Regions from separate parts of the Homo sapiens genome. Here region 2 is linked to region 1. The links come from fine-mapping of genetic effects on gene expression. Tissue or cell type: skeletal muscle. Region 1 holds a variant in brackets; the other region holds the start of a gene. All regions are shown on one strand. Distances are between the middles of the regions.

The links. PIP is the estimated chance that this variant, and not a neighbour inherited with it, causes the effect.
Region 2: it holds the start of KIAA0930, and the variant in region 1 is fine-mapped to the expression of KIAA0930 in skeletal muscle (GTEx, PIP 0.97).

The regions. Positions count from the first base shown.
Region 1 is chr22:45,191,710-45,195,709 of GRCh38, reverse strand. KIAA0930 reads left to right here. Exons shown (of 10, transcript NM_001009880.2): 10 at 1-3,466. Among named protein-coding and RNA genes, the nearest start is that of MIR1249, 7.3 kb to the left of the region's middle. The variant C/G (reference allele first, on the strand shown) is at 1,888.
Region 2 is chr22:45,239,080-45,243,209 of GRCh38, reverse strand. KIAA0930 reads left to right here and starts at 2,316. Exons shown (of 10, transcript NM_001009880.2): 1 at 2,316-2,570. The coding sequence starts at 2,507. RefSeq lists silencers at 1,993-2,192, 2,223-2,282, 2,443-2,502, 2,653-2,742.

The sequences.
Region 1 (4,000 bases):
GGTTGGATGTTAGACTCCTGGGATGCCCTCCTCCCCCTCGCCCTTTGTAATAACCTAATCTGAGACCGTGCTTGGTGGGGGGATGTGAACTTTCTCTCTCCCCCAGCAGTGTCTGCTCAGGCCTGACAGCTCAGCTCTGCACGATTTCATGTTCCTAAACCCATGTCTTAGGGCAGCACAGAGCCAGGTCATGTCATGCCCCAAAGTGTGGGGACAGAGCCTCAGGGAGCCCCGAGCATGGTCCAGCCCCATTTGAGTGCTCTCCGGGGATGCCAAATGCTGCTTCCAAGTTTGAGTCCATGTGGCTAAAATACACCCATTTCTTCAGGAACTCTTCCCCTGGTTGTTCTGGGGATCTTGGGAGAAACACAGCCCTGACAGCTCGTCCGTGGGAAGATGAGGCAGTCCAGGTTGTGAGGAGCACAGCGGCCCGCCCTCTGTTCTCAGAGGTGAGGGGCGGGAGAAGGTTGTCTCCTCTGGGGCCAGCATTTGGCCAAGCTCGGAGGCTTGGCCAGCACTGCTGGATGGCTCAGAGCAAGCTGGGCTCCCCGTCTGTAAGATGGCAAAAATGCTGCCCCCCTCACAGGGTGACCATGAGGACCAGTCACAGTGATGTGTGAAAGGGCTCGCTGGTCACAGAAACGTGTACAAATCATGCTATTTTAGAGATCAGCCCTCAATTTGTAAGGCATGTGAACAGGGCACGCGGTGGGCTGGTGGTTTCATAGCCGACACACAGCGCCTACCATGTGCAGCTGCCTGTCCGACCCCATCTTACAGACGAGAAAACCAGCACACAGGCACCAAGGAACTGTCCGGAACTAACAGCAGGGGCCGGCGATGGGAGTCAAACCCAGGCACGCGGCCTGGCCTGCATGCTGAGCCACATGGTGCTGTCCGGACAGATGGACAGACACTCGGTGGAGTCTGCCTTTCTCAGGCCCTAAATCCCTCTCCAAAGGGTACTTGCGATGCCGGATTTAAAACTTGCTCAGAGCCACTTAGCCACTTGAGAACCAGACAGTAAGGTGTTACTCCCAGGTTTGTTTTTCCAAAGTAACAGATGACATGTGGAATAAAGTAATAGAGTAACAAGTGGCAGGGCCAGAACCAGGGTCCCCAAAGTCCTGGTGTTGGCACATTTGTACTTCTTGTAAGACCATCTTTAATTTTTCTGGGAACACACCTGCCTTTTGTGTAATGCGGGGAAGACTAATGCATGGTGACACCTAGTTTTCCTCAACAGGACACTTGATCCCAAAACCCCTTTAAGACCTTAGGTTTCCTCAGCGGAAAACTGTACTTTAATCCCAAACCCCCTTTAAGACATATTGGGGCTGGGCGCAGTGGCTCACGCCTGTAATCCCAGCACTTTGGGAGGCTGAGATGGGTGGATCACCTGAGATCAGGAGTTCAAGACCAGCCTGACTAACATGCTGAAACCCCATGTCTACTAAAGATAGAAAAATTAGCTGGACATGGTGGCAGGCACCTGTAATCCCAGCTACTCGGAAGGCTGAGGAAGGAGAATCACTTGAACCTAGTAGGCAGAGGTTGCAGTGAGCCGAGATCACGCCATTGCATTCTAGCCTGGGCAACGAGAGCGAAACTCTGTCTCAAAAAAAAAAAAAAAAAAAAAAAAAAAAAAAAAAAAAAAGATACATTGGTCTTTAAACCCAAACCCCCTTTAAGGCATGTTGGTCTCAAGGGGATTTGGGATTGAAGCACAGCTTTCTGTTGAGGAAACCTAGGTGTCACTTTTTAGAACATTAAAAAGAAAGTTGTAGGGTGGGCTTTTCCATTTAAAGGAATGTGATGATCCTAGGTTCTGATGAGTGATAGGTGGTCTCCGTTTATACCCTTTCTTCTTTTGGCACCTGTAAGTTC[C/G]GGTAGTGGCCATCTTACATTCTCATGTCCTGCTGGAAGTGCCTAGTTGCCTGCAAAGCCAGCTAAGGCTTATTATTTCAAAAGAAGATTATTTAAAACATGAGTGACAGGTAGTCAGAAGAGAACAAAAGGACGCAAGATACTCTATAGCCAAGTCAGCTTGGAGGCAGGATGGGTTGCTGAGTGAAGTCGCCGCTCACTTTTGGATTCTTATGGACTGTGAGTTAGTCTTCCCTCTACACGGAGTCACAGGAAGGGTATAAATGCATGTTCCTGAGGTGCCCTCCCCCAAAGAATGTACCTGCACTCAAACCAGGATCTGTTTTTGCTGTTTTAATCATAAATAGACTAGTTAGTAGAAGACTTTTGAAGAACAAAGTAAAACTTTTTTTTTTCATTAAAAGATGTCCCAGAGGAAAGGCCCTGTGCAGCCAGTATATTCTAATGACTGCCTGGACCATGTCCTAATATGGTGGTTTTAAGTTGTTGGCCAAAATCCTTTAAAGACATACGAAACATCTGCCAACTTTTTAGCGAACTTAACAGGTTTCACTGACGTTTTCCTCAATTTTTGAATTTAGGTGGGATTTGCTTTCATGTCCTGTTTCAAAAACCAAGTGTCTCTTGACAGCCCACTGGTTCTTCCTGTCCTCTTGCTCTAGTCTGTATCAGAAAGCAGAATGACTGTACTTTTGTTTTACAAACAACCACCTGATAGGACGGACACTCCACGAGATAAGGAAAGGCACGTGCCCTTGAGCTTGAATGGAAGCAGCCTCTGGAGGGGGCAGCCACTGCCCTTCGAGGGAGAGCAGCTCTTCAGCAGTGGCCAGAGTGCCACGTGACTCTGCAGATGACCCCTGGGAGCCGGGTGATGGGCACCTGCTGGGGCTTTTGTTTTTTCTTTTTCACTGGCTGGCTTGATCCTCAGTGGCAAAAGGACCCCTGAGCCCCTTCTCCGAGCCCTGGAGCACTCCTCGGGACACCGAGTGGCCTCAGGGCTGGGTTCAGAGCTCCTCCCGCAGGGGGAGCCTCAGAAGTGGAGGCAGCTGCTGATGGGTGAGTTTACAACTTCTTATCCTGCCTAAGGCGAGTAGGCGTTTTTATTCCGTTTCCAGTCCTTGAGCTCAGCAGATCAAAATAACAGTGACCCTGCAACCCCACAGAGCCCGCGACACGCTCGCTTTCTTCCCCGCCCTGCCCCTTTAGTCCCCGCTCTGGAAGGCCAGGCAGTTTAGGTGTAAATAGGTATCTTTTATGGTTTCCAAATGAATTATTTGTGTGAGAGTAATTAAATCTGTAAGAAAACCTGTTGAGATTCTTCACTATGAATTATGACTTCTACAACATGTATTTTAGCAAAAACACGATGCTGGCCTCCACTGGATAGCTCAGTATGCTGATTGCCAGTGATAGTTCTGTACGCGTTACCAACAGCGTCTTTATTAACCCTCTTCCACATCCAGTGGAAATCATTGCTAGGCGGTATTTGTTGGTTGGCTGTTAGCTTTGCTTTATGATTTCATGTTTCTTTTAAAGGTTGTTTTGCATGTTGAATATTAAATTTTTTTTTTCTGTGTCTTCCTCTAATCTTTTTCTGTAATGGGAATTTCAGGGTAAATACAGATATTATAGCAAAGCAATAATTTAATGATTGAAACTTAATTTGCCCCCAGTGATTCCTGAAACTTTTTTTGGAGCTTTCACACAAACTACTTTTTTGAACTAGAGTGTGTTGGAGGCAGAGAAAAATCACCCTGTGTGCTGGCTTTGCCTGCCGTGAGCCAGTGAGGAGTCCGAGAAGAGGTGGGCAGGTCAGTGATGGGTTTGGCCAGAGATGCCATATTTGCAGTATTAAATCATTTCAAGATGCATTTCAAGGCCTGGCACGGCTCACGCCTGTAATCCCAGTGCTTTGGGAGGCCGAGGCGGGCAGATCACTTGAGGTCAGGAGTTCGAGACCAGCCTGGCCAACATATGGTGAAACCCCCATCTCTACTAAAAATACAAAAATTAACCGGGCGTGGTGATGTGCACCTGTAGTCTCAGCTACTTGGGAGGCTGAGGCAGGAGAATCGCTTCAACCCAGGAGGCAGAGGTTGCAGTGAGCCAA
Region 2 (4,130 bases), 47 kb before region 1:
AAAGGAGAGAGCCCAAGCGATGTTTGTTTACTCATTCATTCAACAGATATTTTTCTGGCACCAGTCCTGGGCTGGGTGCCACGGGAAGTGGGATGAATTGGTTCAATGCTGGTCATATGACACAGAATACACGGAGGCAACTGTGTGCAGGAGGGTGGGGTGGGGAAAGGGGGTTTGTGAAGCAAATAAGAACACAATGCATTGGCCAAGCGTAACCAGGCAATGTGGGTCCCAAAGGCAACTACAGTTGCGGAGCAGAAAGGATTTCAGGCCAAGGGAACACTGTGGGCAAACGCATGGCAGTGGGAACAGGCAGGGGGTGCTGTGGGGTTTGGGGAGGCAAAGAGGGATGTGACTATTGGACTTGACAGCCTTGGAGCACTCGCTCATGCTGTCTGATCCACCATCCCCAGTTCTCACGTCCACCAGCCCAAACCCCAGCTCTCCAGACGCAGAACCAGAGGCCTCAGCCCTCATGCCAGTGTCCTCACTTTACAGACAGGGATGCAGGCCCACTGGAGAAGAGAAATACACGTGAGGCTGGTCGCGCACTTCCTTCATTCCCTCACTGCTCACCTTTCTACAGAGCCCTCCTGGGCCTGGCACTGGGGACACAGAGGGGTCAGATGTGGCTCTGCTCTGAAGAGTTCAGGGGCCAGTGGCACAAAACTGGGGCAGAGGCCTGAAGCAGGATCCAGATCCCATCTCCCTTCTGGGGCTCTGCCCAACCCCACGGCTCCTTCCTGCTGTGCCTCCCAGGAAGACCCCTGCGTCCCCATCAGACCTCTCCATCATTCTTCGTTTATGCAGCCTACATTTTTTTTTCTTTTCTTTTCTTTTTTTTTGGGGGGGGACAGGGTCTTGCTCTGTCTCCCAGCTTGGAGTGCAGTGGCGGGATCTCGGCTCACTGCAGCCTCCGCCTCCCAGGTTCAAGCAATTCTCCTGCCTCAGCCTCCAGAGTAGCTGGGATTACAAATGTGTGCTACCATGCCCGGCTAATTTTTGTATTTTTAGTAGAGATGGGGTTTCACCATTTTAGCCAGGCTGTTCTGGAACTCCTAACCTCAGGCAATCCACCTACCTCGGCCTCCCAAAGTGTTGGGATTACAGGCATGAGCCACTGTGCCCAGCCTGCAGCCCATATCTATTTATTGGGCATCTAATGTGTGCCAGGCAATGTTCTGGGTACTGAGACAACAGCTGTGTAGTAGACAGGCCCCTCCCTCGGTAGAGAAGAGAACAAGTGAACCCATAGGTATCCAATGTGTCGGGAGGAGGTAAGTGTCACCCTGTGAAGGAGAAACAGACTAAGGGAAGAGAGAGGGAGGGAAGGCGGTCAGGGGAGTTTCTTTGAGGATGTGACACTCGGGACACAAAGGAAGCAAGTTACACAGGAATGGGGAGAAGAGGACTCCAGACAGGGGAAAGGGGGACCTTGATGGGTCTGGGGTCCACACACAGGCTGTGAATGCAGGGAGTGATGTAGATTTAGCTTTGGAGAGACCTGGAAATCAATGCTGGTCTCTCCATCTCCCCCTGTTCTTGGAAATGGACCACCAGGCGTGAGGTTTGGGGAGGCCACTGGCTGCTTCTCCGGTGTCTTCCTGTATCAGCCACAACTAGCACACGGAGGGATGCTGGCCAGACCTGGCTTCATCAGGATGACACGCCCAGCTAACCTCATACCTCCCCCTTCATCAACACTCCCCCATGTTGGGGAGGCAAGGCAGGGAAAGGTCCCCCATGGTGCAGCTGAGGAAATGGAGGCGCAACACTCTGCACTGTGCCAGGTGCAGAGGAGGGGGGCCGGAAGGGCTTTGCCACGGTGTCCCCCAGGAGACCACCTTCTGGGAGCAGGTGACCTCTTGAGGGGTTCTGCGGAGGAAGTTCCCAGAAGTCAGCCGAGGGGACTTGGTGGAGGTGGCAACGCACAGGGCGGGTGACAAAGTACACATCCCGTGGGGTAGCAGCGGGGGAGGGGAGAGGTGCCCTGAAGGGGCGGCGGGAGGGGCTCAGAGGCGTGATCCCGTTGGTGGGGCGTTTAGGACCTTGGGTGGAGGCGGGACCCCGCGAGCGGTTTGAGGGAGGCTGTCCTGGGCATCCGAAGATTGGCGGAGACTGGCCGTTTGGAAGTGGGCGGGGCAAGGGAGGTCAGGGGGCGGGGCCAGGGAGCCGGGGTGGGTCCGGGCCGTTCAGAGGCGGGGCGGGAGGGGACAGGGGCGGGGCCGGGGCGGGGAAGGGGCGGGGCCGGACCGGGGCCGGGCCGGGCCGGGGCGGGGCGAGCGGAGCCGGGGGCGCGCGGGCGGCGGCGGCGCGGAGGTGCGCTCGCCGGTGCTGTGTTTGGCGGGTGGTGGCGGCGGCGGCGGCGACGGCGACGCGCACAGAGGCGGACTGTGGCTTCCTTGGTGCTCGCGGCGGGCTGCGGGCCGGGCCGCCCGCCCTCCCCGCCGCCGCCGCCCCCGAGCCTGCGGGCGGCGCCGAGGCCGAGGAGCGCTCGCTGCAGCACATGCTGCGTGCCATAGCGGAGGAGCGCGGCCGTCTTAGCCTGCGCCGCGAGGTCTGCGGCCTCGGTGAGTGGGACCCGGGGGCGAGGCCGGGCCGGGAGAGGTGAGCGTCTCCGGGGCCGCCTCTGCGCGTCCGTGTTTCTGTGCGCCCCGCGCATCTCTGTCTCTGCGCGGGTGTCGTGGTCTCTGGGTCTGCCTGGGTACCCTGTCTTCCTCCATGGCCCCCCCCCCACCGTCCCTGCATCTGGGTCTGTCTCTGCTTTCCGTCCGACGAGCGCCCCGCACCCCTGTGCCCGGGTCTCATTCGGCGTCTCCCCCTGTCAGTCCGTCCGGGTGTCTGTCTCATCTTCCTCCTTCTTCTTCGTGTCTCTGCGGGTCTTCTTCCTTCTCCAGGAAGCCCGCCCCGGGCCCTCAGCACCGCGGTAGGGAGTGTGGGCGTGGGATCTGGGTACACCCTTAGCCCAGCGCGGCAGGGTCGGGCCCTCGTTGGGCTCTGGGTGGACCTCGCTGCGAGCGTGCCCTGGCCACTGTCTCCTGCTACCCGAAGCCTTTGTCTTTCCGCACCCACCGGCCCCTCTCATCCCTTAGCTGTATCCAGGGACCTGTTGGGCAATGGCCCCCCGAACCCGCCCGCTTGGCTGAGGGGCAGGGCCTGCTGCCTCTCGGTGTGATTCTGGGCTTTAAGTCATGGATCTGCTGGGGGGCGTGGGATGGGGGTGCCTCGTATTGTTTGGAAGGGCCTGGGACTGCAGGTGTGGGTGGGGTCTCCCAGCCAGTGAGGTAATCCATTACTGATGGATCATGCCCAGACTGAAGCCCAGGAGAAGCCCCCTCTTTTGTCGTCTCAGGTTCGTCATTTTCTCCATGGAAAAGACCCCTCCCTCCTCCGTGCAGGGAATGACTTCATACCACATTGTCAGCCACCCCCCACCCCACCCCCAGGCTAGGCTGGGGATTTCTGAGGGGGTGACAGCATTGCTGAGTACGGAATGTCAGCCTTCCAGATTCACCCCTTCATTCACCGTTGGGGAAACTGAGTCCCAGAGAACAAGTGCATCCCCCTAAGGTCACACAGCTGCAGGGACATGGCAGTCCCAGGCATTCAGGGCCCCTCAGCAGGCCACACCCTGGAGGCTGGAGTGGAGAGAGGAAGTAAATTTGAATCCCTTTTGTAGGAGGCAGGCTTAGCATGGGAGGCTTCCCAGTGAGCAGGCCCCAGCCTAGCCTGCCCAGGCGAGCCTTTCCTCATGCAGGGGTGGGGTGGGGGGTGCTTATGAAGTGAAATGGACAAGAACTTCAATGGTTGACAAGGTTTCAATGGTTTCTTTCTGAAAAGGTGTCAAGATTTACTTTTGAGCAGAAGTTGGAGCGTGCTTATTCATTCATTCTGCAAACATTCATTGAGCACCTACTGTGTGCCACCGTGGCAGGCCCACCTGTCAGCTGGCACCGAATATCTGAGCTGGGATGCATCTGAAGGACCATCTGCTGCAGGTCACTTGGCCCTGTTTGCTCAGCAGCTTCAAGCAGTCCCTCCCCACTCCCCTGTCCACACACACCTATTGTCCTCTGACCACCTTTACCTGTGAGCACCTTCTCTCCTCTTCTAGGCAGCCCCTCCCGCAA